Regions from separate parts of the Homo sapiens genome. Here all the other regions are linked to region 1. The links come from fine-mapping of genetic effects on gene expression. A gene starts in region 1. Each other region holds a variant in brackets. All regions are shown on one strand. Distances are between the middles of the regions.

Region 1 (2,761 bases):
CCTTCTTTCCCAAGCATTCCCCAGATTGTCCATGAAGCCTTTTTTTCCCACAGTGTCAATGCAGCTAACCAACCATACATCTAGCTCAAAAATTGTTAAAAGAATTGAACTGGTAACCTGTCTCAAAGCAAAAGAAAAAAAAGTAACAGCATTTTACATTTGGGAGGTGTTTTATATCCTGAGAAAATCTGGGTTCAGAGACTCTTTTTACTGTATTACAAGGGCTAACTGAGGCTGGGAGACAGGAAGTGACCGAGGGCCGAGCGTGAGTTGGCAGCAGGGCCAAAGGTTGAAGCTTGATCTCAGAACAGCACTCCCGGCTTTCCCCATCCCCGACCCGGGCCGAGCCTCAGGGCTGGCTCCGCCCTAAAGCTTGCGGGGACGGGGCTCGAGAGTGCCAGCGGCAGCCCACAGCACGCCTAAAATAACACCCCGCCCCACGGGCCTCCTTTCTAGAGTAAAGACACGTTCGGTGACAGTGCGGAGTTTAGGGAACCAGAGGGAAGGCGCGGAGAAGAAAAATAGGTCTCTCCTTCAGACAACTGTGGGCGCACACGGCCTCTAACCCAAATCCGCGCTCCTGCTGCCTTCACCTGCCACACGATCAGCGACACGCTAACCTCTGCGCGCTGGGGGACCCCCAAAGGTTGGCCTCCGGGATCCCTCTCCCAGCCCACTCTAGAGACGAATCTGGTCCCCAAAATGTAAGAAAAGAAGGGGCGCAGGAACAAAGCGACCTCAAGCGGTGGCCCCCAAGGCGGGCGGGCGCGGACTACAAGTCCCGGCACGCCGCGCGCCGGCGGCCCTCGGCCACTGCCACGCGGGCGGCGCGGTGGCCGCCGGGACTCGTAGTCTGCGGCTCGGCGACTCCGCGGGGCGCGGACTAGGGGCGGCGGGACAGGCCGGCCCGCATCCCGTCAAGCCCCAAGGAGCCCGCCTGCTGCCCGGGCCTCACCTCGACGATGCGGGCGCACTGGGTCCCCTTGCCGGCGCCGGGGCCGCCGAGGACGAACACGACCAGCGGCTTCATGAGACGTGGAGAGCAGAGGAGAATCGGCCGGCGGGTCTGCAGCAGGAAGCTAAGGCCCAGGACGTGGAGCAGCCCGCTGCGGCAGCGGCTCAGCATACACCGCGCCTCGGCCGGACGCTGAGGGAGCTGACAGCGGCCGGCGCGGCGCGGGGCGGGGCGGGGAGGCGGCGGGAGAAAGGGGCGGGCTGAGCCGGCGCCCGCCGCGGCCCCGCCGCCGTGGCTGCCCGGGCGTCCGCGGCCCTGTCGGAAGGGGAGGAGCTTCGCACGGCGGCGGCGTCTCGGCGACACTCGTGCGGTCCGCGCCAGCTTTCCTCCAACCCTTGGGTGGTTATTAGTGCTTTCTGACTGCAGATATTTTATCCTGCGCCCTCAAGTGTCTGGTGCTGAGCTGGAGGCTGGGACGTGATCCGCGGGAGAGCAAAACCTATTGTCTCTGCTCGCAATGAGTTTCCATTCCAGCCAGTGAGGTATGGGGAGGTAGCCAGTGTGAATGAGTAAACACCAGTACATACAAAAGGCAGTACGATTTTGAAGAAATAACAAGTAGGACATAAGATGGCCAGGGTCGCCAGAGAAGGCTTCAGAAGAGGTGACATTCAAGCCAAGACAAAAGGATAGAAAAGAGCGAAACCAGGCAAACACCAGGATAGAGTGTCCCACAGAGAAAAGCATGTGCAAAAAATCTAAGTTGGTTTGGCATGTTAAAGCAATTGAAGGAAGGCCTGGCTGGGCGCGGTGGCTCACGCCTGTAATCCCAGCATTTTGGGAGGCTGAGGCAGGAGGATGGCTTGAGCCCAGGAGTTCGAGACCAGCCTGGACAACATGACGAGACCCCGTCTCGACCAAAAATTTAAAAGCCGGGCACCGTGACCCGTGCCTGTGATCCCAGCTACTGGGATGTTCACTTGAGCCTAGGAGCCGTAATAGCACCACTGCACTCCTGCCTAGGTGACAATGAGACTGCTTCAAAAAAAAAAAAGGAAAAAAGGCCAGTGACAGTGAGACCAGGGCTGAGTCAAATGAGGGGAGAATGGAAGGTGAAAAGTTGAGAAAGTGAGGTCGGTGGCAGATCAGGACTTTTGATTATGGAAAGGAATTTGGGCTGTATTCTAACAGCAATGGAAGCCCTTTAACTCCGTTCGCCTGCCCCCTTCATTAGGGAAGAATCTTAAGGGAGAAGAAAAGGAGACGTTCAAGAACTGAGCCTTGGTGCATACAGGCCTTTAAAAGGCCTTCTGGCCAACGTTAAGAGCTCATTTGATATTTGAGGTAACGGATTCAAAATAATTGAAGATGTTTGGCCATTCAGGCACAGGCAGAGAAGGCAGCTTGTTGCATTTACTGAGGGTTGGGATTTTGCCTGGCAAGTACAACAGAGAGAGGGGGCCAAGTGATGAGAGTGTTTGGAAGAGAATGTTCATGATGCTGTGTGTAGAATCAAAACCATACAGGAAAGCAAATAATGGCACATGAAGCCTGGTAGTGGAGGGGTTGGAGGGTGGTGGGGAAAGGGACCAATGTCTTAGAGCATTGGCCCAAGAAAGATTGCAGTGGGGTATATGAGCAAGTGCTCTGGCAGTATGGATGCTGCTGGTCTGAGTGGGATATTTGGAATTGAAATGTCCCAGCTTCTGAGTTTCTGATGATGCCAAGGTCCAGGGTGAGACCATGGGAATGGAAGACTGAGGCAGAATGCATGTCCTGTTTTTAGAACTAAGAGTCCAGGGTGTT
Region 2 (2,761 bases), 53 kb before region 1:
TAGTGAGATGGAAAAACCATTCAGGGTTTCAGAATACAGCTCAAGGGACAGCTTACAGTGAAGAGGAGGAGGAGGAAAACGGAGCAGCCTCCTAAATCTAAAAAGCCCTTGTCAAACTGACTCATGCAGCCCAGCTTCCTAGTCTGGACTCAGCTAAACAGACACTGGATAAAATTCACCTTCCTTTACCTGTTATGAAAGGTTTATCGCTTTATCTTTGCATACTCCTATCTCCCATTATTTGGTGCATGGACCCTCACCCCCTCCAGCTAAGTGGGTCTCTCCTGTCCCTCACTGCTATCTTTTTGCTACTGCTGTTTCTCTCTTTTCCAATGCAAACTGGGCACCTCCTGCCCACCAACAGCATTAATGCCAGTAAACTTTGTTAAGCACTTATCCCAGGCACTGGGGAGGACACCCAGGGAGGGGGTGGGAGGCAGAAACAGAGGCTTAGGGAAACTTCTCAGCATTTGGGTTCTTATGGTAAGGCACAGATCCTCATGATGCCCCTTAGCCTTTCCTCCCCACTTGTATATACAGGGAACTCTTATGTGTCAGAGAGTATGTCTGGAATTCCAGGTGGACTTCAGACTTAGATACCTACTTGAAGAAGATGATCCCCAAACCACAGAATCTCCAGAGTGAAAGACTAAAGCATTCTGCCAAATAAGCATCCAGGGCCTGCGTGCACACTTCCAGGGACGGTGATCATGTCCTCAGGCGCTCCAATTCAGTGTTGGGTGGCTCTGACCTTAGACGGTCTTCCTTATGTTGTTTCCACTGCCCTAGTTCTGCCCTCAAGCCCACATTGAATACATGTACTCCATCTCCCTTCAGAGGATTGTAGACAGTGGTGGTAGTCCCCTGGCCTCTCCTCACCATTTTGTTTTTGGTTTTGATATGGAGTCTCACTCTGTCACCAGGCTGGAGTACAGTGGTGTAATCTTGGCTCACTGCAGCTTCCACCTCCTGGGTTCAAGCAATTCTCCTGCCTCAGCCTCCTAAGTAGCTGGGACTACAAGCACTAGTCACCATGCCTGGTTAATGTTTTGTATTTTTAGTAGAGACGGGGTTTCACCATGTTGGCCAGGTTGGTCTGGAACACCTGACCTCAAGTGATCCACCT[G/A]CCTCGGCCTCCCAAAGTGCTGGGATTACAGATATGAGCCACCGTGCCCAGCCTCTCCTCACCTTTTAAGACAGTGGCAGCTGCTAAGTAAGATTATAGAAAGCCCACTATGCCAAGCTGCCATCCATGTGACAACTCCCTTAGTGGGAGAGCATTTGTGATACTGTTGCATGCAGTACTTCCCTCTCACTCTGTGAGCTCAGGAATGGCAGCAGACTAAGCAGCTGTTTAATTTGTGAGCTTTCACTATGGTTTGTCACCAACTGTCAATTCATCAACACTAAGTACCTACTCTGTGCTAGACACTGTGGATAAAAAGACCAAGACTTTTTTTTTTTCAACTTTTATTTTAAATTCAGGGAATACATGTGCAGGTCTCTTAATGGTTATATTGCATGATGCTGAGGTATGGGGTACAATTGATCTTGTCACCCAGGTAGTGAGCATAATTCCCAATAGGTAGTTTTTCCTTGCCTCTCACTCTTTTGCAGCCCCCAGTGTCTATTGTTCCCATCTTTGTGTCCATGCGTACCCAATGCTTAGCTCCCACTTTTAAGTGAGAACATATATTTACTTTTGTTCCTGTATTAATTCGCTTAGGATAATGGCCTCCAGCTTTATCCATGTTGCTGCAAAGGGCATACTTTTGGGTTTTCTTTATGGCTGCATAGTATTCCAGGGTGTATATGTACCACATTTTCTTTATCCAGTCCACCGCTGAAGGGCACCTGACTTGATTCCATGTCTTTGCTATTGTGTATAGTGCTGCGATGAACTTATGAGTGAATGCATCAAAAAGACCAAGTTGAACTTATGAGCGAATGCATCAAAAAGACCAAGACTTGATCCCTTGCCCACAAAGATACAAGGCTGTGAGTTTTCATTATCTGCTCTGATCACTTTGTTTACTGTGGTGGTTCTCAAAGTATCAATATCAGTATCACTTTACACATAAAAGAAATGCAGGGCTGGGAGCGTGGCTCACGCCTATAATCCCAGCACTTTGGGAGGCCGAGGCAGGCGGATCATGAGGTCAAGAGATCGAGACCATCCTGGCCAACATGGTGAAGCCCGTCTCTACTAAAAATACAAAAATTAGCTGGGCGTGGGGCCACATGCCTGTAGTCGCAGCTACTCGGGAGGCTGAGGCAGGAGAATCGCTCGAACCCGGGAGGCAGAGGTTGCAGTGAGCCAAGATCGCGCCACTGCACTCCAGCCTGGCAACAGAGCGAGACTCTGGCTCTAAATAAATAAATAAATAAATAAGAGGCCAGGCGCGGTGGTTCATGCCTTCAATCCCAGCACTTTGGGAGGCAAAGGCAGGGGGATCACTTGAAGTCAGGAGTTCGAGACCAGCCTGGCCAACATGGTGAAACCCCACCTCTACTAAAAATACAAAAATTATCCAGGTGTGGTGGCATGTGCCTGTAGTCCCAGCTACTTGGGAGGCTGAGGCAGAATCACTTAAACCTGGGAGGCAGAGGTTGCAGTGAACCAAGACTGCACCACTGTACTCCAGCCCGAATGACAGAGTGAGACTCTGTCTCAAAAATAAAATAAAATAAAATAAAAGTAATTAAATTAGAATTTCTGGGGGCAGGGCCTGAGGCATTGGTTCTTGTTTTAAATATGGTT
Region 3 (2,761 bases), 50 kb before region 1:
GAAACAGAGGTACAATAGGTAAAACAAATCTATCAACATAGATTGAACTATGGATGAGTGGGTGAGATTTTTCGCCCAAACATTGTTTTCTTATCCCTTTCTTTTTTTTTCTCCAAGATAGTCACATTGTAAGTCTTTTCATGAGTTGTGTACTGAAAACAGAGGGAAGCTGATGGGGTCCCAGTACTTTACGATTATCAGCTCCCAATCTTCAGGGGGAACGAAAATAGAATCCTAAGAGGTCACAAGCAGACTCTACTGGGATCCAAAATTCAGTGATATAACTTGTAGCTACAGCTACTGCCAAAAATATTTTTCCATTTCAGTTTATTTTTTCAACAAATATTGAGTGCCTACTATGTGCAGGCACTGGTCTAGGTATTGGAAAACAGGAATAAACAAGGTAAGTGCTCTTCTGGCACTTAAAATCTAGAGGGGAAATCAACAATAAGTAAAAGTAACTTCACATGGTGATATATGCACTGAGAAAATAAACAAGGGTAATAGACTAGTGATGGGAAGCACGGGGGGTATATTAGAGGTCACATTGCCTTATTACAGATAGGCAGCAGGGGCTACTGGACAGGAGGCAGATCTTTTTTTTTTTTTTGATACAGAGTCTCCATCTCAGGTAGGAGTGCAGTGGCGCAATCTTGGCTCACTGCAACCTCCACCTCCCAGGTTCAACCAATTCTCCTGCCTCAGCCTCCCAAGTAGCTAAGATTACAGGCGCACGCCACCATGCCCAGCTAATTTTTCTATTTTTAGTAGAGATGGGGTTTCACCATGTTGGCCAGGCTGGTCTCAAACTCCTGACCTCAGGTGATCTGCTCTCTTCAGCCTCCCAAAGTGCTGGGATTACAGGCATGAGACACCGCACCCAACCTGGGAGGCAGATCTTTAAGGCCCAGAGGTCTGGGTTCTAGTTCCAAACCCACCACTCTCTAGCATAAAGATTGTGGCAATTGACTTGAACTCTTTGGGCCTCAGTTTAATCATCCTTGAAACAGGAAAATCACCATTCCAACCTGCCTCAGAATTGCTGGGAAAAGAAAACAAAATCACAGAGGTAAAAAAGTTTGCCAGCAATGAAAGCACTACACAGAAACACAATCAGCTAAGAAACCACTGGATTTGAGCTTATCTAGTAAGCCTGTTGAGGGTAGTGGTTGTACATTAACTGACTGTTGTATCCGCAATGTCTCAAACATATTTTGAATGAATGGCCAGCCAAATTTTGTAATGTGATTATTTTGGTGCTA[T/C]TGTCATCCCTTGGTCCAGTGACAGTCACGTGGCCTAAGGCAGATGTGGACTACCTGCAACAAATCTGATTCCAGTCACAGGGGTCAGCATCTCTGAAAATTGGCTTGCTAGTGACCAGTTAGCTAAATTAAAATGACAGACCCTTGCATGAATGTGATTACAGACTGTGGTAATACCTCCTATGTGTACCTAGCTATTATTTCACCAACTAGCCATAATCTGTGTCATATAAAACAATGATTTGGCTGCTGACTATAAACAGCTACTTTCTTAAGTCAAATACATAAACAAAACTCAGAAATAGCCACAAAATTACTGAAACCACAAGTTAAAGATAAATGAAGATAGATGGTGTTAAGGAAATCACATTCCTTAATCCCATTTTCATCAACAAAATACTCGTGGAGAGAAGTGCGAGTGTGGCCTGTGAACCTGAAGACTTTTGAACAGATTAAGACACAGTGTTTTGTGGGAGTGATTATTGATAGAATAAAAAAGTTCCAGCAAGAACCATCATGTCCCCTGTGGCTGGTGGCTGAGCTGTGTGTCTCCTCCTCTGCTGCTACCATTTAAAAAAAAAAAAAAAGAAAAGAAAAGAAAAGAACAATAAAAAAGAAACATCACGTATAAAGTAGAACTAGATGGAACAAAATCCTGCTTCTCTATACAAATGGTTTTACTCTCATCCCATCACATCCCCTGCATTTCAGAATTTCCATTTGCACACAGTAGCAGCAGTGCAAGTCCAGGAGTTATCTTCTTTCCCCAGACAGCACTTATCCAGACCTAAGTAAAGGCCTTAAACAGAGAAAGGAAGGAAGGAATATAGATACAGTCTCTGCTCAATCATCTTTGATACTGAATATGACATAGACATTCTGACAGTTATTTTGGAACCAGGGGGATTTTGATGTAGCTGTTTCAACTTGTTCATTTTAATGTTTAAAGACTAATAAAAAATTAGTCTTTATTTATTTATTTATTTAGAGGCGGAGTCTTGATCTGTCGCCCAAGCTGGAGTGCAGTGGCATGATCTCGGCTCACTGCAACCTCCACCTCCCAGGCTCAAGTGATTCTCCTGCCTCAGCCTCCTGAGTAGCTGGGACTACAGGTGCACGCCACCATGCCCGGCTAATTTTATGTATTTTTAGTAGAGACGGGGTTTCACCATGTTGGCCAGGCTGGTCTCAAACTCCTGACCTCAAGTGATCTGCGGGCCTCAGCCTCCCAAAGTGCTGGGATTACAGGCGTGAGCCACCACACCCAGCCCCTAAAAAATGAGTCTTTATACTTCAGCATTTTCCCCTCCAAATCATGTAAATAATGTATCATTTGACTATTATCCCAGCTGAGGATAGAACAATGGTAGTGCTTATTGTGCACCTGGTTAATTAAAAAGAAAACAGTGTGACATTTTGTCAAGGACGTTTTGATGCAGTCTCTTCACAATCATACCTACTAGACTGGCCAAGTGTTGGCAGCTGTTTTGGAGCCATTT

Direction of the effects. Alleles are on the strand shown, and positions count from the first base shown. SD is a standard deviation of normalised expression in the study named. Not every link is listed here.
With allele G in place of A in region 2, the expression in thyroid of the gene that starts at base 1,282 in region 1 is lower (small effect, 0.16 SD a copy in GTEx).

Evidence for each region. PIP is the estimated chance that this variant, and not a neighbour inherited with it, causes the effect.
Region 2: its variant is fine-mapped to the expression of CMPK1 in thyroid (GTEx, PIP 0.98).
Region 3: its variant is fine-mapped to the expression of CMPK1 in whole blood (INTERVAL, PIP 0.97).

Annotation. Positions count from the first base shown.
Region 1 is chr1:47,332,311-47,335,071 of GRCh38, reverse strand. CMPK1 (cytidine/uridine monophosphate kinase 1) reads right to left here and starts at 1,282. Exons shown (of 6, transcript NM_016308.3): 1 at 956-1,282. The coding sequence starts at 1,126. RefSeq lists enhancers at 160-219, 1-539, 540-1,343 and a silencer at 730-1,369.
Region 2 is chr1:47,385,485-47,388,245 of GRCh38, reverse strand. It overlaps LINC01389 (long intergenic non-protein coding RNA 1389), which reads left to right. Exons shown (of 5, transcript NR_126355.1): 4 at 1,890-1,998. Among named protein-coding and RNA genes, the nearest start is that of FOXE3, 29 kb to the left of the region's middle. RefSeq lists a silencer at 1-289. The variant G/A (reference allele first, on the strand shown) is at 1,127.
Region 3 is chr1:47,381,870-47,384,630 of GRCh38, reverse strand. The region is part of intron 4 of LINC01389 (long intergenic non-protein coding RNA 1389); the gene reads left to right. Among named protein-coding and RNA genes, the nearest start is that of FOXE3, 33 kb to the left of the region's middle. The variant T/C (reference allele first, on the strand shown) is at 1,263.